Linked DNA regions of Homo sapiens. The protein of the gene in region 1 interacts with the protein of each later gene in a pairwise test. Each region holds a gene or a part of one and is shown in the gene's direction. Other genes may lie near its edges.

What was found. Proteins that work in one complex are often made in the same cells at the same time.
Region 2: the proteins of LMO2 (region 1) and GOLGA2 interact in binary tests that used the Homo sapiens proteins (3 or more experiments, as listed by UniProt).
Region 3: the proteins of LMO2 (region 1) and ZNF185 interact in binary tests that used the Homo sapiens proteins (3 or more experiments, as listed by UniProt).

What each region holds. Positions count from the first base shown.
Region 1 is NC_000011.10:33,867,679-33,875,706, reverse strand, and holds part of LMO2 (rhombotin-2), read left to right. Parts: intron 1-5,719; 5' UTR 5,720-5,990; coding exon 5,991-5,997; exon of another isoform or gene 5,998-6,120; coding exon 6,121-6,361; intron 6,362-8,028. UniProt on the Homo sapiens protein: Acts with TAL1/SCL to regulate red blood cell development. Also acts with LDB1 to maintain erythroid precursors in an immature state.
Region 2 is NC_000009.12:128,266,008-128,273,007, reverse strand, and holds part of GOLGA2 (golgin subfamily A member 2), read left to right. Parts: intron 1-142; coding exon 143-223; intron 224-4,483; coding exon 4,484-4,588; intron 4,589-4,847; coding exon 4,848-4,891; intron 4,892-5,010; coding exon 5,011-5,074; intron 5,075-5,490; coding exon 5,491-5,550; intron 5,551-5,733; coding exon 5,734-5,814; intron 5,815-6,682; coding exon 6,683-6,721; intron 6,722-6,987; coding exon 6,988-7,000. UniProt on the Homo sapiens protein: Peripheral membrane component of the cis-Golgi stack that acts as a membrane skeleton that maintains the structure of the Golgi apparatus, and as a vesicle thether that facilitates vesicle fusion to the Golgi membrane.
Region 3 is NC_000023.11:152,894,217-152,901,066, forward strand, and holds the start of ZNF185 (zinc finger protein 185), read left to right. Parts: upstream 1-3,850; 5' UTR 3,851-4,022; intron 4,023-6,850. UniProt on the Homo sapiens protein: May be involved in the regulation of cellular proliferation and/or differentiation.

The sequences.
Region 1 (8,028 bases):
GTGGGGGAAGGTTTGACAATGGCCTGAGGTGGAAGAAGGAGCTGTTGACCCTGTATGTCTCATTTGCTTTGTCCATCAAAGGGTCTGAATTATCAATGGGTGCTCAAACTTTTTTTTTTTTTTTTTTTGAGAAGGAGTTTTGCTCTTATCGCCCAGGCTTGAGTGCAACGGCACGGTCTCAGTTCACTGCAACCTCTGCCTCCCAGGTTCAAGCAATTCTCCTGCCTCAGCCTCCCGGGTAGCTGGGATTACAGGCGTCAGCCACCTCGCTTGGCTAGTTTTTGTATTTTTAGTAGAGATAGGGTTTCATCACGTTGGCCAGGCTGGTCTCGAACTCCTGACATCAGGTGATCCACCCACCTCAGCCTCCGAAAGTGTCAGGATTATAGGCGTGAGCCACCTCGCCCGGCCGCCCAAACATTTTAAAGTTAGAATCTCTTTTTATAAGCAAAATTTTCCATAGAAGGTGACTATGTGCCACTTTCCTCTCCAAGCACCTGATCTGCTTCATTTCACAGAATCCTTAGAACAGCTCCACGAGTAGGTACTCTGAATACTCCCGCTTTACAGATGTGGAAGCTCAAATGCAGAGAGGTTGGGCAACATGCCCAAGGTCAATGAATGCAGAACTGCTGCAGTGGGAGCAGGGGTGGGTGACACCCACTAGGGAGGTGCTTTCAAACTCCTACTGCTCCAAGGAGCAAGCTAGAAAATCCCACTTCTCAGGCCCCTTCCACTAGGACACACTATGAGCTTAACACTGCTAAGAACTCACTGAGGAATGGTGACATTTGGGGGCGGCTCCTTCAGTGCTTTGTTTGGCTTCTTTTTTAAATTATAAATGGTGGTTTGAAAGTTGTTGGAGGGGAAAATCAGATGAAATCAGGGATGTGGCTGAAGCAGTCAGTGTAGCAGTGTAGCAGAGAAGCAGAGAAGCTGTCAGCAGCCTACCCAGGCCCCGAAATGGGCACAGCCCTGCATTTCTGGCCTGAGGCTTGCCGAGGTCTTAGGTGAACTTCAGCTCTTTCTACAGCACCCCAGTCTCAGCACTCTTTGGTGGATGTCCTGATTGGCTGGGAGATTGTTGCTTCCTGATACAGTGGTGATTACTTCTGAAAGATGGGGTAATACCAACAGCTATCGTTTCTGACCATTTACTGTGCAGCATCACTGTGCAAAGTATTTTTATACATATCCTATTGACTCCTCTCAAAACTCCTGTGAGGCAAGCAGGCACCCCAGTGGCCTCATCCTAGTTCTGGCCCTGGTGACATTATGATTGCCTCCATCCTCCATTTGATAGGTACAGAAACTGAGGTTCAGAGAAGTGAAGTAAATTCCCCCAGATCACGCAGCTAGCAAACAGCTGAGCTTCTATGCTCATCCTAAGGCTCGGTTGAAATGGATTTTTTAAAAGATGTATTTTGGGCTCTTTACTATATAGAAAACCGAATCTGTTTATCACTAAGGTTACTAATAGGCCTTACATCTGTGAAAACTTATCTGTCAGCTGGCCCTGAAATGTTCTGAAATGAGTCTGAGCACAGGATGCCTGTGACAACCGAATAGTTTAAAAAAATTCTCCATGGGAGCCGAAACCCTATTAAGACAGGTCTTTATTTTTGTTCCTGAATGCCACATTTAGAAACAAAATGTCATATTTTTGTATATGAATGTCACAAGTGACAAAGCATATGTTGCAACTTGGCTTCTAATGGTTGAAAAAAAAAGAGAGGTAAATTATCATAATGTTGGGATCTTCTCAATTATATTTGCATTTTCATTTCTATCAGAAGTCCATTTTAGCAAAGGAATGTAACCTTAGTCACTTGAAACTGCTGTTCCCTTAGAAAACAATTGTAAATGTAATAAGCAAAAAGGATAGAAAATGCCCACAGGGGAAAAAAATGATCCATCTGGGGTCAGAGCCATCGTGTAGATTGATTCATTCTTCTTCTAGCATTCTTATTCAGGAAGGAAAACTTGAACATTTTCTAGATTTTAGGATATTTAAGATTTGCAAGGAATTGGGGGAAAGGGAAAAGGAATGAAATTTCAGTCCCACTGGCAGGGATCAAATAGAGATTTTCTCAACTTTTAAAAGAACCGTTTTACATGTCCCAATCACCTCATAGTTCCTGAGTCTCTCTTCTGCATAAGGCATGTACTAGTTGTTAAGGGAGGATACAATAAGGTCATGATTGCTTTAAAATTATTCATAATAAAAACACATTTTGAGACTTGATTCTAAATGTTAAACTTAAATTTGAGCAATTTAATTGCCCGTTGAATAGGAATGAAATCCCACCGGTAGGCAGTTATTTCTTACAACCACTGTGTGTGAAATTGAAATCTTAAGATACCATTTCAAATATTCACCTTCTCTAAGGAAGTTCTCCCCAAAGAGTTGTGAAAGATAAGAAACTGACCCAAAGTCATATGCAGTAATCTCTTTTTCTTTACACACTCAGGTCAAAGTAGAAGCATATTATTAAAAAGAAACGTTATGCCCTGAATTTGGCTGTTCTGAGGTTACCTCTTGGAACCCAAGGATATATTTAATTTAAAAACTGACTTGAGCCCCATGCAAAACTGTGACAAGGAAAGTAATAATTTATCAGATTAAATAAAAACAAGCAGATGTGGCCAGGCGCGGTGGCTCATGCCTGCAATCCCAGCACTGTGGGAGGCTGAGGCAGATGGACCGCCTGAGGTCAGGAGTTTCAGACCAGCCTGGCCAACATGGTGAAACCCCGTCTCTACTAAAAATACAAAAAATTAGCTAGGCGTGGTGGCGAGCGCCTGTAATCCCAGCTACTCGGGAGGCTGAGGCAGGGAAAATCGCTTGAACCCAGGAGGCAGAGGTTGCAGTGAGCTGAGATCGCACCATTGCACTCCAGCCTGGGTATCAGAGCGAGACTCCATCTCAAAAAACAAACAAACAAACAAATAACACCCAAGCAGATGCAAACAGGTCATTTAGTCACCACGATAATGAACGTTAAAATGGAAAACACTTACATGTTTTATTTAGGAGAAGAAGGGGGTGAGGTGAAGGAATCCTGTTTCCTGCTTTTAAAAAACAGGAAATAGTTTCCAAATTTGGGTGGGCAATTCTTATTTTAAACCCCCATTTCACCTTTAAATTTAATTTCAAGCTCTTTTAAAATTATCTTAATGATGCCCTTTACTATAACATAGCAGCTGCCATTTATGAGTGCTTACTATATACCAGTTGCTTTTCATGCAAGCAACTTCATATCTGTTATTACCCCCATGCCATTACAAATCTATGTGCCACCCTTTTGTGCACTAACTCATATAATCCCCACAATAACTTAGGCAATAGGTTCTGTCGTCTCCATTTTACAGATGAGGATACTGGGAGTTTATTTGTTTGTTTGTTTATTTATTTTGAGACGGAGTCTCACTCTGTCACCCAGGCTGGAGTGCAATGGCGCGATCTCTGCTCACTGCAACCTCTGCCTCCTGGGTTCAAGTGATTCTCCTGCCTCAGCCTCCCGAGTAGCTGGGGTTACAGGCATGTGCCACCACACCTGGCTAATTTTTGTATTTTTAGTAGAGATGGGGTTTCACCATGTTGGGCAGGCTGGTCATGAACTCCTGACCTCAAGTGATCCACCCGCCTCGGCCTCTCAAAGTGCTGGGATCGCCTCGGCCTCTCAAAGTGCTGGGATTACAGGTGTGGGCCACCGAGCCCGGCCAGGATACTGGGAGTTTAAATTCCTGCTGTGAGCCCAGGTTGACACAGCTGGTCAAGGATGGGTTAGAATCCAGGTAGTCTGACTCCAGAGCTACTACCGCATACTGCCTCCTCAGATTAAATAATTTTCCTAGGACATGCTAACTGATAAGTAAGAGTCTAAATCAAACCCAGGCAGTTGGGTTCCAAAATTCCAGCGTTTAACCACCACATTGACTGGTTATAAGTAGGTAAACTGTTCATCACAACCTATATATTTATTTTCATTTCTGTTAGAAATGAAAGTAGTGTGGTAGGTTACATATTTATCACATAGTTTAGGCTTGCCTAAATTCTAAGTATTTTCTTTTTTAAATTAAAAACAAGGGTCTATCGGAAAAAAAAAAACCCAACTTTTTTTTTTTTTTTTTTTTTTGAGACAGGGTCTCACTCTGTTCCCCAGACTGGGGGGCAATGGTGCGATCATGGCTCACTGCAGCCTCAACCTCCTGGGCTCAAGCAATCCTCCCACCTCCGCCTCCCGAGTAGCTAGGATTTCAGGCAAGCACCACCACGCCCAGCTAATTATTTTTATTTTTTATTTTTTGTAGAAACGGGGTCTCACTGTGTTGCTCAGGCTAGCCTGGGTCTCCCAAAGTGCTGGGATCACAAGCATGAGCCACCGAGCACAGCCGAAAAAGTCTTTTTGTATACTGAAGTCTCCACTAGGACAAAAATTTGCTCTTAAGGCTTCCTTTGGGACACACACACACACACACACACACACACACACACACACACAGCTTTTGATTATACCCATTAGGGACCCAAGCCTTGGGACACAGGGACCAGAAAATGACAAGAGCATGCAGGCAGTAGTAAACTCTGGTTATCCTTAAAATGGGAACAGAAATGTATGCCTATGATCCAGACTGATCATATAAAACCATGGATCCTGAAAGTACGTTCCCTCTTTACAAGCCTTAATGACTGGCATCACGCACAAATAGGCCTTTCAGCTTCTGAACGCAGATATTTTCAAGGAACTCTGAGGCCCAGGAGAGCCTAAGTTTTTCTCCACGGAAGGGCAAACTACTAGCCTCCCCCGCTTCCCCTCTGCGTTCCTGCCTCTTTCTAGAAGGAGGCTGAGAGGGGGAAGCCTGAACCCCCAAATCAAGTCCGCCTTCTTTCTCTGTGCCTGACCCAGGGCAAAATAATCTCTCTGATCCTGTTCTTGACCATTGAAAAAGCACTTTCTCTGGTCGGGATACTACTGGCACTTTACATGGGGGGCAGTTTAACCGCAGGAGTCCGCTTTCTGAAAGGTGCAGAGGGAGGGGATTCCGCCACCAGCCGACTGAGAGGAGCCCCGGCCCCGCGTGGTCCCTCCCAGCCACCCTCCCTCTGGGATTAGCTGCCCTGGCTCTGCTCTAGGCGTCCCCAGCCCGTGCAGTCCCGGCTGGCGCACCACCATCGCCTCTGCAGAGCGCGGCCGCAGCCCGGAGCCCGCAGCCCGGAGCCCGCAGCCTGGGGCCCGCAGCCCGTAGCCCGCAGCCCGCAGAGCCGCGCTGTCCGGGGCATCCCAGTGCACGGCGTCCGTGGACCTGGGACCTCGAACCTGGGACGGGCGGAAAATCCACTGGGAACACTTGCATTTCTGTAGGTGCTTATTTCACATTCTTGTCTTTTCTTGCTTGCTCGAGCTGTTCGTGGGTTACTTTCTGCCTTAGTTAAACCAAAAGGGAAAGGCGGAAGAGGGGAAGCCCTGAAGAATGATTTAGTGGTTGCCCAGCCTCCTTTCCAAGGAGAGGTGTTCGCTGAGCGGCTCTCCCCGTCCCCGACACTGGCCCCTTTAAGAAGCCAAGTCAGTCCTGATGCTGCTGTTTGTATTGCTAATCCCCAGGAGCCCCGTTTAAAAAAAAAAAAAAAAAAAGGAAGAAAAAAGGGGAGGTGGGGGGACCGGGCAGCTGTCTCTTTAAATGTGATTTCCTTCTATTGTATTTGAATCGTGATCAGGAAAAAGGAAATGAAACCAGAGACAGAGGGAAGCTGAGCGAAAATAGACCTTCCCGAGAGAGGAGGAAGCCCGGAGAGAGACGCACGGTCCCCTCCCCGCCCCTAGGCCGCCGCCCCCTCTCTGCCCTCGGCGGCGAGCAGCGCGCCGCGACCCGGGCCGAAGGTGCGAGGGGCTCCGGGCGGCCGGGCGGGCGCACACCATCCCCGCGGGCGGCGCGGAGCCGGCGACAGCGCGCGAGAGGGACCGGGCGGTGGCGGCGGCGGGACCGGGATGGAAGGTTAAGTCCTGAGCAGCAGCAGCAGCTGCAGCCGCCTGGAGCCAGGCTGCGCGCCCCGGCCCCCGCCTCGGCCGCGGCGCGCCCGCAGCCCGGTGATTCGCTCTCTCTCTTTGGCGTTTGAAGGGAGCGCGGTGACTGTCCTTGAGCGCGGAGGGGCGAGCTCGCCGGCGGAGCGCCGGAGCAAGCGGAGGCGCAGGAGCGGCGGCGACGGCGGCGGCGGCGGCGGCGCCCGAGCACCCGAGGGGGTCCGAGCCCCGGCAGCCGGCCAGCCCCGCGCCACAAAGGGAGCGCCCCCGCCGCCCGGCACCCCGCCTCCCTCCCCAATGTCCTCGGCCATCGAAAGGAAGAGCCTGGACCCTTCAGAGTAAGTGCGGCCCCCCTGCCCCTGCCACCCCCGGTGTCCACGGCCTCGCGTCCCGGAGCGTCGGGGGGACCCGGGCGGCCCGCGAGGGGGCTCCAGGTGCGCGCTCGCGGCGTGCCCTTGGCCCCCTGTGCCGAGCGCTGGGCTCCTCCTTCCTCCCGGGTGATTCCGGGGGCTCTGGGAGAGGGACTGGGCGGCGGGCGGCAGGGACAGGGGTCGGCCCGGCGCCTCTGCGGGCCACTCCAGGCTACTGGGACGCTCCCCAAAGCCACCACGGGCCAGAAAGTTTGCACGGGAGCAGGCACGAGGAGAGCCTGGAGGCGCGCAGGTGCAGTCCGGAGAGCGTTCTGGGCTTGACTCTGCTCCCTTCTTCCCTCTCCTTCTCGGTCCTTTCTCTTTGTCCATTTGGTCTTGGAAAGGGGAACATTCCAAGTGGCGGCCTCCGGGGTCCCCAACGGCCGCCTTCCCGGTCCGCAGGTGGAGCCGCTGCCAGCCTTGCGGATAACGGGCGGGTGAGGGGTCCGACCGTCCACCTCGGAGCTGGCTCTGGGCCTCCAGGGATTTCTAGAGCAGCGAAATCCGGAGTAAATCTGAGTAGGTGTACCCCTCCTCGGGGTCCACCGATGGGGACATGTGAACCTCGAAAGTTAATGCACCATTTTGTGTATAGGTGAATTATTCTGGGGAGTAGAGTCTCGTAGTTTTTAGCAGAGTCTTAAAAGGGTTTGGGGTCAGGGAACCAGAGCTCTAATGAGCATTGGCCGCATCTGTTTTCTGAGCCGCGTACTGGTTTGGAATGTTTTTCTATCCCTCACCCATTCTTCAGCGTTAACATGGGGAGTAAGGGGTGTTTAAGATATCATTTTCCTGTCAACGCAAATGCCCTTTTAAGAGTCATTAGCTGTCTGGTTTTGAGAATTTTTATTCCTTTGAAGTCCCCCTCTAATCCTTTGAAGGGATTTGTTACACAAGACCAAAGGAGCTGGTTAATGACTTGTCCATTTGTGCTTTTAAGAGACATTTGTTTTGTTTTTTCTTTTCCTGCTTTAAAAGAATTGTGCTTTCCTGCTTGAAATACCGCACACACACACATACACCCTTCAATTTCGGCTTTCTATGGTGTTTATTTACCTGGGTTTTACCCTCAGTTACCAGCATAAAAGCTCAACATATTCTCATAAAACACAGGAAGTACCACCATCCAATGAGAATATAAACATCACTATTCAGTCTTGAAGGTTAAGACACCAGTTCTGTAATGAGCTAGGTTTGTTATAACAAAAACCCCCACTTCCTTCAACAAATTCTCAGGAGAAAAATAACATTCCTTTTTAAAAGTATGTTTATGCAAACAATGGGTTTAAAGGGTGGTTTGATCACTTTTTTAAAATAAACTTAAAACTGAGCTCTGAGTTTCAGAGACTGGGCAAGATCATAGTAACACAATAAGGGAGTGAATTGGATGAATTGGTGCCTCATGCCTTTTTGATCAGCAGAATTTAGTCACTAATCCTTTCAATAGAAGATTAATCTGAAGGTTTCATTTCCCTGAAGGAAGTTTGCTTCTTTCAAAGTTTGTGCTTTTTCACTGAGGTTAGAAACTGAAACATCCTAACTTCCTAATACAACAGATATCTACTGCTGGAGGCTCACCAGCTCCTTCCTTCACT
Region 2 (7,000 bases), on another chromosome or scaffold:
GCCATGGTATTGATCTCCTCCACTCTTCTTATTTCATTTCCCTGAACCCACATCTTCCTCCTTCCCTGACTTTCTTGCCTCTCTCTAAGCCACTTCTACCTTTCTCCCCCTGCCCTTGTTTTTCCCTTTTCGCCTCCTGTAGATTCAGGACATTCTGAAGGTGCTGGTGTCCGACCTTAACCGTTCCAATGGGGTAGCGCTCCCCCCATTGGACAAGTGGAAGGTGAGGCAGTGCCGAGACCCCTCTCTGGCTTGCTCTCTCCAGCTGTGCATGCCCCTGAGGCTTCTCTGGTTTGGGGGATACTTTGCCTCTGGCTTATTTTATGTTGCTGCCATTAACCTTCCGCCTGTTTATGTCCGCTTCTTCACCTGCTTGATTGATTGGGTTTTTATTCTTCCCCCAAATCTTTTATCATCTTGGAGAAGGTGAGACATATCTTAAAGTTTAAAAGTTTAAAGGTAATTTGGGAATAACTTTTAGAGCAGGTGTGTGGGATTTGGGGCTTTTTTTTTTCTTCTTTTTTTTTCAGAGACGGAGTCTCACTGCCCAGGCTGGAGTGCAGTGGCACAATCTTGGCTCACTGCAACCTCTGCCTCCTGGGTTCAAGTGTTTCTCCTGCCTCAGCCTCCTGAGTAGCTGGGATTACAGGTGCCTGCCACCATGTCTGGCTCATTTTTGTATTTTTAGTAGAGATGGGGTTTCACCATGTTGGCCAGGCTGGTCTTGAACTCCTGACCTCAAGTGGTCCACCCACCTTGGCCTCCCAAAGTGCTGGGATTACAGGCGTGAGCCACTGCTCCCAGTCTGGGATTCTGGGATTTGGGCTTTTGAATGCCCAGTGTGGGTACTCTCAGACTAGGAGAGATGAAAAAAAAAAAACACAAAAAAACCAACAGACCTTTAGGTTTTACCCTAAAGGCAAAGATCAGTAAACCACCTAGAAGTTAGTGTTTTTTTTTTTTTTTTAAATTAATTCACTTTGGTTTAAGAGTAGGGAACAAAGGGTTAAAAGAAAATGAGTTCACATTATAGTTGGAAGGATTGAAGCTATTTTTTCAGAGGAACTAACTGTAAAAGTTGTGAGGTTAACCAAACAGATGAGTGACCAAGACGTTCTGCCCCTAATCTCTCCAAATGGACATTTAGCCATATTCATTGGGCTCTTGACAACAAAGGCACTTTGATAAATAAACAGTGGATAAAATAGATGAACAAGGTAGGCTGCACACCGAGGGAGGCAGACTCCTCTGAAGGAGGCAAGAGAGAATTTTGGAACATTCCAAATGCTCAGCTCGGGGGGAGGTTGGTTCCAAATGGACTCCAGGCTGGAGAAGGTGGCATTTGAAGCTGGCTTGAAGATTAAAGGTGGGTAACATTAATCCATATGGGGAGTGGGGGAGGCAGGGGGAGCGGTGAGGCCGTGGCCAGAGTGTGAACTCACAGAGCACCTTTCAGGAACACAGGGAGCCTGGTGGGGGGCAGGGCATGGAGGTACACAGGGCTGGGAGACAACCTCCTCTGGCTGTGATTTGGCATTTCTTCCATCTCTAACTCACCTGGGGGACTCCTTCCTGCCAAGCCAGAGGAGCAGGGCACGAATAGAGCCTGATCCTGTTGGAGATGGGTATGGGGAGAGGGACTGAGACAGAGCAGCCTTGGCTGCTGTTAGAGAGTTGTCCAGTCTCATACCTGTTACCCTCCAGTTGATCAGGTCTGTCCAGGTGCTGTGACTCACCTTGCCAGCTCAGAGGAGACGCTGAGTGGTACGGCTGGGGAGCACAGGCTTAGAGGTGACCTGCAGCCAAAAGCATTTGGCTTTTGCTCTGCCAATGGTCCAGTGGATTAGGGGGTCTTCAGCCTGTTTCCTAATGCTCTGAGATTCTGTGCCAGCCCAGGTCCCTCTATTCTGGAAACAAAGGCCTAGATCCCCGTATTTCCTTCTTGCTGTTTTGTTTTTGTTTTTGAGAAAGAGTCTTGCTCTTTCTCCTGGAGTGCAGTGGTGTGATCTTGGCTCACTGCAACCTCCCCCTCCCGGGTTCAAGTGATTTTCATGCCTCAGCCTCCCAAGTAGCTGGGATTACAGATGTTGCACCATCACGCCCGGCCATTTTTTTTGTATTTTTAATAGAGATGGGGTCTTGCCATGTTGCTCAGGCTGGTTTCGAACTCCTGGCCTCAAGTGATTCACCTGCCTTGGCCTCCCAAAGTGCTGAGATTACATGTGTGAGCCACCATGCCCAGCCCCTTGCTGTTTTTATACCTTCTCTATATCCGTAACTGTTTCCAATGTAGGTTTTGTTTTTTTTTAATTTCTCATTTTTATTACCATGTAAGTTTTCTACTCCAGGAATGCAGGCCTGTGATCGTAGTATCCTGAGCGGAGCTGATAACATTTCCAGAAGTAGGGAATAATGGAGAGAGAAAAAATATCTTAATGGGATGGGACATTTTGAGGAGAGTAGGCTTTTTTAAAAACTCCATCTTGGCTACAAGACTTAAAATAATGAAATAACTTGGTTGCTCACAAAATAATCATGCTATGTGTGTCAGAAAGTCCTCAGAAAAATGCTTTTTCAGCCAAGTGCAGTAGCTCATGCCTGTAATCCCAGCACTTTGGGAGACTGAGGAGGGTGGATCACCTGAGGTCAGGAGTTCGAGAGCAGCCTGGCCAACATGGTGAAACCCCATCTCTACTAAAAATACAAAAATTAGCTGGGCGTGGTAGCGTGCACCTATAATCCCAGCTGCTTGGGAGGCTGAAGCAGGAGAATCTCGAACTCAGGAGGCGGAGGTTGCAGTGAGTGGAGATCTCGCCACTACACTCCAGCCTGGGCGACAGAGTGAGACTCCCATCTCAAAAAAAAAAAAAAAAAAAAATTCCCTTCCTCTGAGCATTCTTGTGTCTAATCCTAGAGATCAGTGGGAACCGAAGATGCCAGGAGGGCCCTAAAGCCTAGCAGGGTCCATTGCTAGGAGTGCCAGCCTTCCCTCAAGGCTAATGCCTGGCCAGCAACTGAACCCTTGCTCTGACCTATTAGATTCAGTTGTAGGCATTGTCAAGGAAACACCAGGTTCCATGGTCACAGTAAACTTGCAAAGATGCAAAGGCAGCTTGGCTCATCTTCAGTTCCACCAGCCTCTGCAGCACTTGCTCTAAGGAGGGAAGCAGATTTGGGTTTTCAGAAGCCAGGGCTGAAGGGTCCAGTGAGCGCGCAGTCCTTTCCCTGGAGAGAGGTGTAGTCACTTCTCCCAGACCCAGCTTCCGTGGCCAGGCCCTGGCTCCCTGGTGTTTTTCTCTTGTCCAGCTTAGCTGGTCAGCCAGCTTTTTCCACTGTCTGCCCATCTGGCTTGTCAGATATTAGAAGATCTCTAGAACCAGAGGCTTGGGCGAAGAGTAAGGTCAGAGCCTGGAGAGAGGCTGGGTGGGGCTCTGATCAAGCAGGTAGGTCCAGTTGGGGGCAAGGGAGAGGCTCCACATGACCCCAAGTTCTGAATCCTAGGATTGTCCTCAGGTACTATTCCCAGGAAAGAGGCCCTACAACTTCCAAGTTGCCAAGAGCCACAGGGAAGATGTCTTACCTCTGTTTTCTTGGGTGGTTTCTTGGCTGGGTAGATGTTTTTGGAGGTAAGAGGTCGGGGTGGGGGTGTTGGCCATGGTTTATCCTCTTTTTACCTCCAGAGAGTTGGAGAGAGTCTTCTAGTTGGGCAGCTTTTTTTTTTTCCCCCTGAAAAGGCCTGAATCAGAAACACAGCCAGTAGGCCAAGTGCAATGGCTCACACCTGTAATCTCAACATTTTGGGAGACCAAGGTGGATCACTTGAGCCCAGGACTTTGAGACCAGCCTGGGCAAGATGGCAAGACCATGTTTCTATAGAAATTAGCTGAGCATGGTAGTGTGCACCTATAATCTCAGCTACTAGGGAGGCTGAGGTGGGAGCATTGCTTGAGCCCAGGAGGTGGAAGCTGCAGTGAACTATGATTGTGCCACTGCAGGGGAGAAGGGAAGGGAGGAAAGGAGGAGACAGGCAGATAGCTACATTGTGCATTGCCCAGACAACTACTTCCTCATCACCATCCTCTGCCCAGTAGGGGCCCAGTGAGGGTCACTCTGCAGCACAGACTGGCCTTCTGGAAGAACAGTGCCTTTCTCCTCCCTGACTTTGGCACACCTTCCTCCTGCCTGCTGTGGCTGCCACAGGTCAGAGCCTGCTGCTGTCTTTTGCTGAGCTCCAGGGAGAGCGAGGTCCTCGTGTTCATGAAGGAGGCCGTGCAGCCCCTGCTTTGAGCTTTGGCCATCTGAAATGCTGCCTAGCAGCCCAAGGCCTGGGCAACCAATCCACACCCCTGAGTGGCTCCTAGCATGTGTGACTGTCACTCTGACTGCAGCAACACCTGTCCTACCTGTTCCACACCCTTGTGTTCATAGTACTGAGGCACCTCTCCCGCATGGCCCCCTAACCCCCTGCTCTGTTCTGTGACAGACACCCAAGGACAATGCTGCTACTCTACAACCATCTGATGACACCGTGTTACCTGGCGGTGTCCCTTCCCCTGGTGCCAGTCTCACTAGCATGGCGGCATCTCAGGTTCGTGCCTCCTCCCCCTCTGCCCACTGCCCTCCTGTACCTATTATGCATTATCTTCTCCTTTCACAGGCAGCTTGTTCCCTAGGGTCAAGGGCCCTTCCTGGGGACCGGGCCGGGGGAAGGCTCAGACTGGGCTTTTTTCCTTGAGGCCTGGGGAGATTGAAGATTGTTAGAATGAGTTTGGGAGCTTGACTCACCCCATCCTGGGTGATTCTTACCAGAAATTGAATGACCATCTCACACGTTTCTTCCCAAACAGAATCATGATGCTGACAATGTCCCTAATCTCATGGATGAAACCAAGTGAGTGTCTCCTGTTGGGGCAGCAGTCTCTAGGCTGAGAGAGTCAGGGAGGCCACTGCCCATGACCTTCTTTCCCATTGAGCCACCTGCACCCCTGACCCCTGTGTCTCCATCCCTAGGACTTTCTCATCAACCGAGAGCCTGCGACAACTCTCCCAACAGCTCAATGGTCTTGTTTGTGAGGTACCTCAGGAACTGAGGCCGAGAGCGGGGTGGGGGGAAGGGAACTATGATAGAAACTGAAGCAGGGATTCACAAGAGAGAGGGAAGATCCTGGGACCAGCCAATGTGCTGGGCAATGTTAAGGAAGTCGCCTTTTCCCTGAGCCTTCTCCCTTGAAGTTGTGCACATGAAGGAGTTGGACCCCATGACTGGTTGCATCATTGTATCCTGCTGCAGAAGCACTGGATGAGAGCTGCTCGGGAGGAAAGGATGGTGGGGAAATAAGAACCATGAGAGAAGTTGGCACAAAGGGGTTACGGGACAGAGGGTCCAAGTTAGAAAAGAAAATGTTGCCAATTGCTGGGGAAGAAACGAAGTTAGAGGGCTTAGACACTGAGGGGACAGAACATCTCCATGTGCACTCTCGTCTCTTATAGTCTGCGACATGTGTCAATGGGGAGGGCCCTGCATCGTCTGCTAACCTGAAGGATCTGGAGGTAAGAGGCCCTGGGCCGTGGCCCAGTGACCCTGCAGGCCAGCCCTCCAACCTCCTCCCACAGCGGGGGCTGGGTGCCCCTCTGCCAGCTGAGACAGCCCACACACCCCCCAACCCTAATGATTGCTCTCTCTACCTCTCCCCCCAATCCTCCTCCAACTCCTCCTCTCTGCATGCGCCTCAGAGCCGGTACCAACAGCTAGCGGTAGCCCTGGACTCCAGCTATGTAACAAACAAACAACTCAATATCACGATAGAGAAATTGGTAAGAGTCCAGTGGGGTCCCCTGATTCCATGCTGCTAATCCTGGGCTCCAGTTTCCCCTTGGGACCCTGAAGAAAGGGGCAGGGGGCCCCTGGTGCCAAGGGCGAATGGGGAGCTGGGGGGCCCAGGCCTCAGCTGGAGGGACCCCAGAGCACGGAGCATGCAGCATGGCTCTTCTGTTGCTGCCCTCTTTGCCTACTCTCTCTTCTCTAGACACCCCTGCTCGAGTCCTTGCCACACACGCCCTGGGGTTGTTGCCTCTTGGGGAAGCGCTAGCCTGACTGGTTGTCAGGAGCCCTGTATTTCTGCCCTGACTCAGTCCTTAATTTGCTCTTTGATTTGGGACAAGCCACCTCTCCTCCTTGGGCTTGCATTTCCTGAGGAGGTAGAGTTAGAGAGTATCAAAGGTCTCTTAGCTCTGAGAGTCCAAGATTTAAAGGCCCATTAGAATGTAAACCTCAGGGCCAAGGGCTCCTGTCTGTCTTTTTCTGTCTGGTATCCCTGCTATTAAGAACCGTACCTGGCCTGTGTGTGCTCAGCAAATGTTTGTTGAATGATTACACCTTTCTAAATCACAAACTGGCAGAGGGTGGGCTTTTCTCACACTCCATCTCTAGAGGTTTATGTTACTGTCCTTTCAAGAGAATCGAGATTCAGACTTTCAGTTCTGTGGCTGTGGGCAAAAACCAACAAAGACACAAATCCCCTTTCCTTGAGAGCCTGAGGAGAGTTTACCAGTTCGTGTTCCCATTGGGTCTGAGAACTTTGCCTTTAAAATCCATTCCTGGCCCCTGCCTACCCGTTCCTGGTCTGGGGAATAGAGTTGAGGGGGCCACCCTCAGTCACCTTCCTTTGACTCTTCCCCACAGAAACAACAGAACCAAGAAATTACGGATCAGTTGGAAGAAGTAACGTGATTTCTTTGTTTGCTCACAACATGACTGCTGGGTTTGGGGGGCATTCAAATGTAGAGGCCTCAGTCTCGTCTCACCCACTCCCAGCCTGGGGAAGAAGGCTCACCCCCCCAGATTCCACCCCATCCCCACAGGGTCCCTGATAACCTGGTCCCATGGGTGGGCCTGTCCTGGGACATTGGTGGCATTCTGGGGGCATGTCCCTTGCTGTGCCGTCTCTGCCTCCCCCTCGTAAGAGCTCTGTCTTCCTCTTCCTATAGGAAAAGAAAGAAT
Region 3 (6,850 bases), on another chromosome or scaffold:
CCCGTAGCTTGGAGTGCAGGCTGAGAACAGGGGGAGAGGAGCAGCCACTCCACATGCTGAGAGGCTGGACCAGCTCCTAGCAGGAGAGCTGGTTACAAACACAAGGGCCTGGCCTCACGGGTTCGGGGCTCAAAGGACCCATCCTACCTGCAATCACACCTGGGGACCCCTGCCTCCAGGGCATCCACCCTGCTTGGAGTCAGCAGAGTCACCCAGCAAGTGTAAACCGGTTGAAGAGCTTAAGAGGATGAGGTGGCAGGGCGGGCCCCGGGAAGGAGGGGATTAGGGATCAAGCAGGAGCCCAGCCCTCCCCGCACATGAACCTGAGCACCCCAGCTTCTCTCCAGCTGGGCAGGGGCTCCATCCAGAGCAGCTGGAACCCCAGGTTCTAAGCCCAGCTCTGCCTCAGACTAGCTGTGTAATCCTGGCAACATCTTGTCCCTCTGTGGGCCTCTGTTTTCCCATTTGTACAACTGAAGTGTTGAGGTTGCCTGCCTGTCTTCAGTCCCCTCTAGCTGAGGACACTGCCTGGGGGAGCTTTGCGGCCTGACAGCTTTCAGGGCCCAACCCCTCTTTCTCCCCCTCTAGCCTGGTAACTCTTTTTGTTTTCTGTATTTTTTGTAGAGACGGGGTCTCACCATATCGCTCAGGCTGGTCTTGAACTCCTGAGCTCAAGCGGTCTTCTCTCCTTGGCCTCCCAAAATGCTGGGATTACAGGCGTGAGCCACTGTGCCCACCTCCTAGCCTGGGAACTCTGGGGCTAGATCACCTTGCTTGAGTTCTCTTCCCAGCCCTGGAGATCAGAATGGGGCCTCCCCTGGAGCTGAGGAGTGCTGCTGGCCAGTTCTTTCCCAGCAGCCACCTGCCGTGCTACCCATCTCATTGCTTAGATGCAGCCTCCCAGAGACGCTGCCTCCACGGCCTGCTTGTGAGCTATGGCTTCTCCAGCACAGGGCTCACCACCTGCTACTCCCTGCCTCTACCTTTCAGCCTCTTGCCTGCCCAGACAGCCCAGCCTGGCCCCACCCTGAAGCCCCTACCTCTCACTTAGAGCCTTGCTGAGGGCCTGCTTGTTGGTGGGAAGAGACTGTCCAGTCCCCTGGAGGTGGCACTGCTGCCTAAGCTGGAGGGACTTCAGGAGAACTCTGCCAGAGCCAGGGGGTGGGAGCTGGCCTGTCTTGGAGCTGCGGATGGGTGGAAAAGTGCAAGAGATGTGAATAGGAAAGGATAGGGCCAAGCTCAGGCCAGGTAGGGACAGAGCCCAGCCTGGAGGCAGGCAGCAGCCACCACAGCCTTGGCCTAGAACTTGAGGGAGGTCTAAGGGAAGGTTCATGAAGGAGATAATGTTACTGCTGAGAGAAAGTGGAGGCCACCTGGTGTCCCTGGGGAGGAAATGTCATTCCAAACAAAGGGAGCATCTTGTGCAGCGTCCTGGTGGTATTTGAGCACTTGGTCTATCTGGGTACATGTCATTTGGGCATGTCTGGTGCTTGAAGAGGCTGAAGAAGCCAGCAGGTGCCTGAAGCCTGGCTGAGGTGACTAGAGGTGCCCTGGCAGGCGTGGAAGTGGAAGACTGTTGGGGCAATGGACAGGTGGGCAGGGCAGGGCAGGGCAGTTACCATTCAAGTCAAACCCGTTTGCAGGCAAGATCAGCTGCAGGGCCTGGCAGCCTGGCAGGGAGGGAGGGGTTCAGGGAAGGCTGATCTCTTTGGCTGGAGCAGTCGTGACAGATCGGGCCTGGGCAGAGACTGAGTCACCTGGGACATGGGAAGAGCTTGAGGCCCTGGGGCGGCCCAGCCTGGGGCAGTCCTCACTTGCTGGCCGTGCCGTTGGACACCACATTTGCTCATGCTCTCCAGCTGGGCCCCCCACCCCTGACTCAGGGCTCTTGAACAAGTTTGCCTTTTCCCTCTTCCTTGCCCTACATCTCACCCATCATGATGTCTTCTACCTTCTACCCTTTCAAACTAGGGGCTCTTGAAGAGGACTGGGACCCAGACAAAGAGTATGACACAGCCTAAGTCATACAGTAAACATGTTTAGGAGGTAAGATGCCAAGCCAAATCCATGGCCACCAGTAGCCACAGTGGAGGAGGGGAGGTGTTAGTTGCTGGCCACCAGACAGGGGCATACAATATTGGAAGCAGAAAAATGCTTGTTGGCAAGAGACGGACATGAACAGAAGTGACTTTATATACAACCCCCTAAGCACACACAGGGTCGCCTTCTCCCTATCTCATGAACCCCAAGAAGAAAAGGATGAGGACAGCTTCCACAGCCTCACTCACCCATCCATCACTTCCTTCTGCAAATTCTTCGGATGCCCTGTGCTGGTCTCCGTGACCCAGTGATGAATCAGAAGGGGCCCTGCCCTCCCAGAGCTCAGGATCTAGAACAATAGAGGGTGACAGCCACTATGCTGGATTGATGTCATCTGAGGGAACTAAGGGGTGCACAGAAGGAAGTGATCAGCTCGACTGGGTGGCAGGCAGGGGAGGCTTTCCGGACACTGGGTGGAGGCTTGAAGAATGACTAAGAGCTCACTAGCCCGACGGGGATGAAGAGCATTTTAGGGAGTCCGAGGAGCAGGAGCAAACACCCCAAGGTGAGCGCCATGTGATGTATTCAGAAGGCAATGGAAAAAGGCCAGTGTGGCTGTAATGTATTGAACAAAGGGAAGAGTGGCTGGACCTGCAGGGATAGGTCGTCTCAAGGAGTCTGGCTTTTACCCTGAGAGCAATGGGAAGCCATGGAGGAGTTGCAAGCAGGAGAGCACCTGATCATATTGACACACGTGAACTTTTAACCTGACCTCCGTGTAGAGACTGAGGGAAAGGAAGGCAAGACCAGAGGCAGGGGGACACCAGCAAGGAGGCTGGTCTTCGGGGCCAGGTCTGGACTAGGGTGGTGGCAGCAGGCACAGGGAGAAGTGGGTGGACTGGAGGGCCATGGAAACACCACATTGGCAGGCCTTGATGAAGGAGAAGCAGCTGGTCCATTCTTTTGAGCCTACCACCCTGGTAGGCCAACTCCTGGCCAAGTCCATGCCATTTCTTGGGCTGGCTTAATTGTCTCCCTGTTTGGGAGGCCGTGGGGTGAGGGGTCTTTCCTCCATGCTCTCTCCATCCTTAGCCCCAGCCCAGGGCCTTGCACACAATAAAGCACTCGGTGAGCACCAACGCGTGACACAGGTACATCAAACCGCATTGGCTCTGGGAGTCTGGCTGTATCTCGTCGCCCAGCCTGGGAGATAGCCCCGTTTGCTGTGCCTTGTGAGCCCCGGGTCCGTCCCAGGATGGCCTTCCACGATGAGCGGCTCCCTCACTCTTCTCCTCCTTTCCTGCCTGCAGGACTTCCTGGATGATCTCAGCCGCCAGCCCCCCGCCCCCCTCCCCGCCCCTGTCTGGGATCTCCATCTGTAAAATGGATCTAGGAACGGTAGTTCTCGACTGAATTAACCCGACAGCATCTGTGGAAGTCGTTGGCCCTGTGCCGGGGCCAGATCGCGCAACTAGGAGCGGGGGCCCTTCACGTGGCGGAGGCTTCCCGGCCTGGGGGCCACGGGCCCGGAGGAATTTGCCTGGAAGTTTTCCATCACGGCAGAGCCTTCTGGAGCTCGCCCCGTGCTCGACAAGGGGAGCCCCAGACTTGATTTCTCCAGCAGCCCCGCGGGGCGGGGCCGAGAAGGGGCGGGCGGGCGGAGGACGCTGGCGGGAGAATGTGCGGAATGTGCCAGGCGCCTCTACCTACCCCAGGAGGGGCAGAGGAAGGGGCCGGCCGAGGGGAGGGGCGAGGGGCGAGGCTCCGGGCGGCCGGAGAAAACCTGTTTGTTCTCCTGCGGGCGGAGCCCAGTCCGCGCCTCCTCGCCTCCCTGCGCGCTCCCCGCTGTGCACCGCGCCCCGCGCCCCGCGCCTGCCTCCCCGGCCCGGCCCGGCCCGGCCGGGCGCCGTCCACCCGAGGGAGCCCGCGCCCTGCGACTGCCCGACCCTCCACCCGCCCCACGAGCCGGGCACCGGTGCCAGGTAGGGCTGTCGAGTCGCCATTGGATGCGGCCCTGCTTGGAGGCAGTGGGGGGCACCCAGTCCGTGCCCAGCTGGGGACAAGTCAGGGCCTCAGTTTCCCCATCCATAACCCTTACCAGCTCCAAGCATCTCTCTTCGGGTTCCCCCCGGGAGTCAGTGGATTTCTGGTTTTCGCTGTGAGTGAAAAGACTGACAGGCAGAGGAGGCCAGCGTCCCCTACAGAGGCAAGTGTCCCCCTTGCCAGCCTGATCCCTCTGTCTTGCCCTTTAGGAAAGACACGGTTTAATTGTTAGTAAACGGCGAGGGGCCAGGATGCTCTGAGAGTTGACTGCAGGCCTTTAAGAATCAGGGAATCTCATATCCCTCCGTCCCCCTGTGCCCATTTTATAGATGAGGAAACTGAGACCCAGAGGCTGGCTCACCCAGAGGATCCCCTCAATCGCCCTGGGGCCTGTGAGGTGCATGTGCTGGGTACAGGGCAATCTTGGGGAGGGCCATGAGGATGGTGGCTGCTCACACTCAGACAGAAGGCGCCGAATCAGGTGTCACTGGGTGTTATCGACAGGATCGGCACTGCACCAGCTCTGTGGCTGGATTGTTTTGATGGGGGCAGAGGGAGCCAAGAGTCTGTCCTCTTTGGAAAGGCAGAGGGATACCTTGCCTTACAAAAAGGCCGAAAGCTCAGGTGCTCCTGCCTGATCTGCCACTTCTGAGCTGGGGACACCTGGGTACTCTGTCGGTTTAAGGGGGTGACACGTCAAGCTGCCTCCCACCCAGGGCTGCTGGGGACTCAGATAAAGTAGGTGGTGGGTGTGTCCCGGCTTTGGGACATCTGAGGCATGGTAGGAGTTGTGTTCTTGCTGAGCCGTCGGCACGAAGCCTTGGCATCATGGGAGGCCCCAAAGCTGTGAGCCCCGAGAGAGGGCCTCTCACACCCCATCCAGCAGTGCTTGAGGCTTCAGTACCTGGACTAAGTCCTGCCTTGGTCTCATGGCCCTTCAGACTTCTGGCTGTCGTACCTGGCTGGGGGCGGGAGGCAGGGGTGCACAGGTTGATAGGCCTGAACAGAGCTGCAGAGGTCCTGCCTTCCCAGGGCCTCCGCTCCTCATCTGAAAAACAAGGGGCAGCTCAGAGGCCAGCAAGTGGCCAAGACACAGATGCACAGATGAGGGGCCAGCCTTCTGGCAGGCCTTGGTGCCTCCGCTGTTCCCCTCATCGCTCCCAGGCCACTTCAGGATGGGAAGGAACAGATCCCTCTCACCTGCCCCTCCTTCCAGCAATTCCCAGCCCCTGGCTGGATGCTGTGCATTCAGCCGTGTGGAGCTGATGGAAGGCACTCAGTGCAGGGCCAGACACGCAGCAGGTGCTCAAGATCTGTTCATTTCCATCCTCTGGACACTCATGACTCAAGCAACAGAGGTGGCCCAGGACCACTTAGGATGTTGCAGCTCCGAGTAGCATGAAAACATTAGGGGTTCCTCAGTCCTGGAGCAGCGAGGCACCCCTGGCTGGGAAGATCAGGGAAGGCTTCCTGGAGGCGAAGGGCTTGGAAGCAGGAGGAGGAGCTCGGCAGCCACCAGGTCAAGGCCCGCACGTCCTTTGGAGCTGCTGGAGTCTAACCTCCCCGTTACTCCTGAAAGATCATAAACCACTTCTTGCTGAGCTCCTGCATATGGGGGCCCACAGAGAAATCAGCTCCATGCCTTGCCCTGAGGAGTGACAGAGAGGCCATCTGTCAGTAAGAAGTTGCCATCTGAATCCAAATGGCAGCAGTGCTTGTCCACCTCACTTCCTGCTCAGCTCAAGTCCAGACTCCAGAAAAAGCCTTTCCCACGTGAGGCCAGTGATGCCAGGGGCAGCCAGCGCCTCAGCTCAGCCTCCCTCAGCCTGACTTGTGCTCCTTGTCTTCCTGCCCAGTGTCCCCAAGGCCTCCTGAGATCTGGCAGGGCAGGGACTCTGGGTCCCTAGCACTGGGCCCAGGACCTGGCCACGATAGGCATCGGCACTTGTTCCCTGAACTGTCTTCAGTTGCATGCCAAGCAAACTCCCCCAATTCTGGCTCGGTGCATTCTGGAAGCCAGAAGCCTGCCTTCCTCCTTCCCTACTCAAGCTTCCACAGGTGACTGCCCCCTTTGGTGCGGGTTTTGCTTCAAGCCACAACTTATAAGGTGCCAGGTCACATGTAACACAAGCTTTCCTTCTGTTGCTGAGCCCTGAGGCTGCCCCCACTGCCAGTCCCTGGCGGCATGGGACAGGACCAGTGCCAGAGAGGAGAGCTGCTCTCCAGTGCGGCAACCCCTTGCAGTCCGGGCCTTTGGGCTCTCATGTTTAGGGTCAGTCCAGGGACTTTGCATTCGTTACCACTGTGCCCATAGTGAACCGGCTGATGCCAAGACAAGGGCAGTGCCATCAGGGGACCAGTCCCTGAGAGATGCTCAGGAGAGGTTGCCATCATTGCTTCCAAAGGCCGGGAAGAGGAGGAGGGGCTGAACTGTCCCACACCTGGTCAGGTGTGTGGCAGGTGAGGGTGGCACCTTCATAGCCTAGTGGTTAAGAGAATGGCTCAGAGGTCAGCCTGGGTTCAAACCCCAGCTCAGCCACCATCCAGTTGTGCAAAGTTCGGCCCTTCATGCAACCCCTTGAGGCCTCTGTTTTCTCACCAGTACTGAAGGGTGGCTAAAGCCAGGAGCACCTGCTGCACTGGGTGCCTGCAAGTGCTAGGTTCCTGGCACAGAGGTGCTCTGTCACGGAAGGTAGCTGAGCCAGGACTATGGTGCCCTCCTTCAGGGCTGTGGTGGCAAGGAGTGAAGTGGGACTAGGTGGAGAGA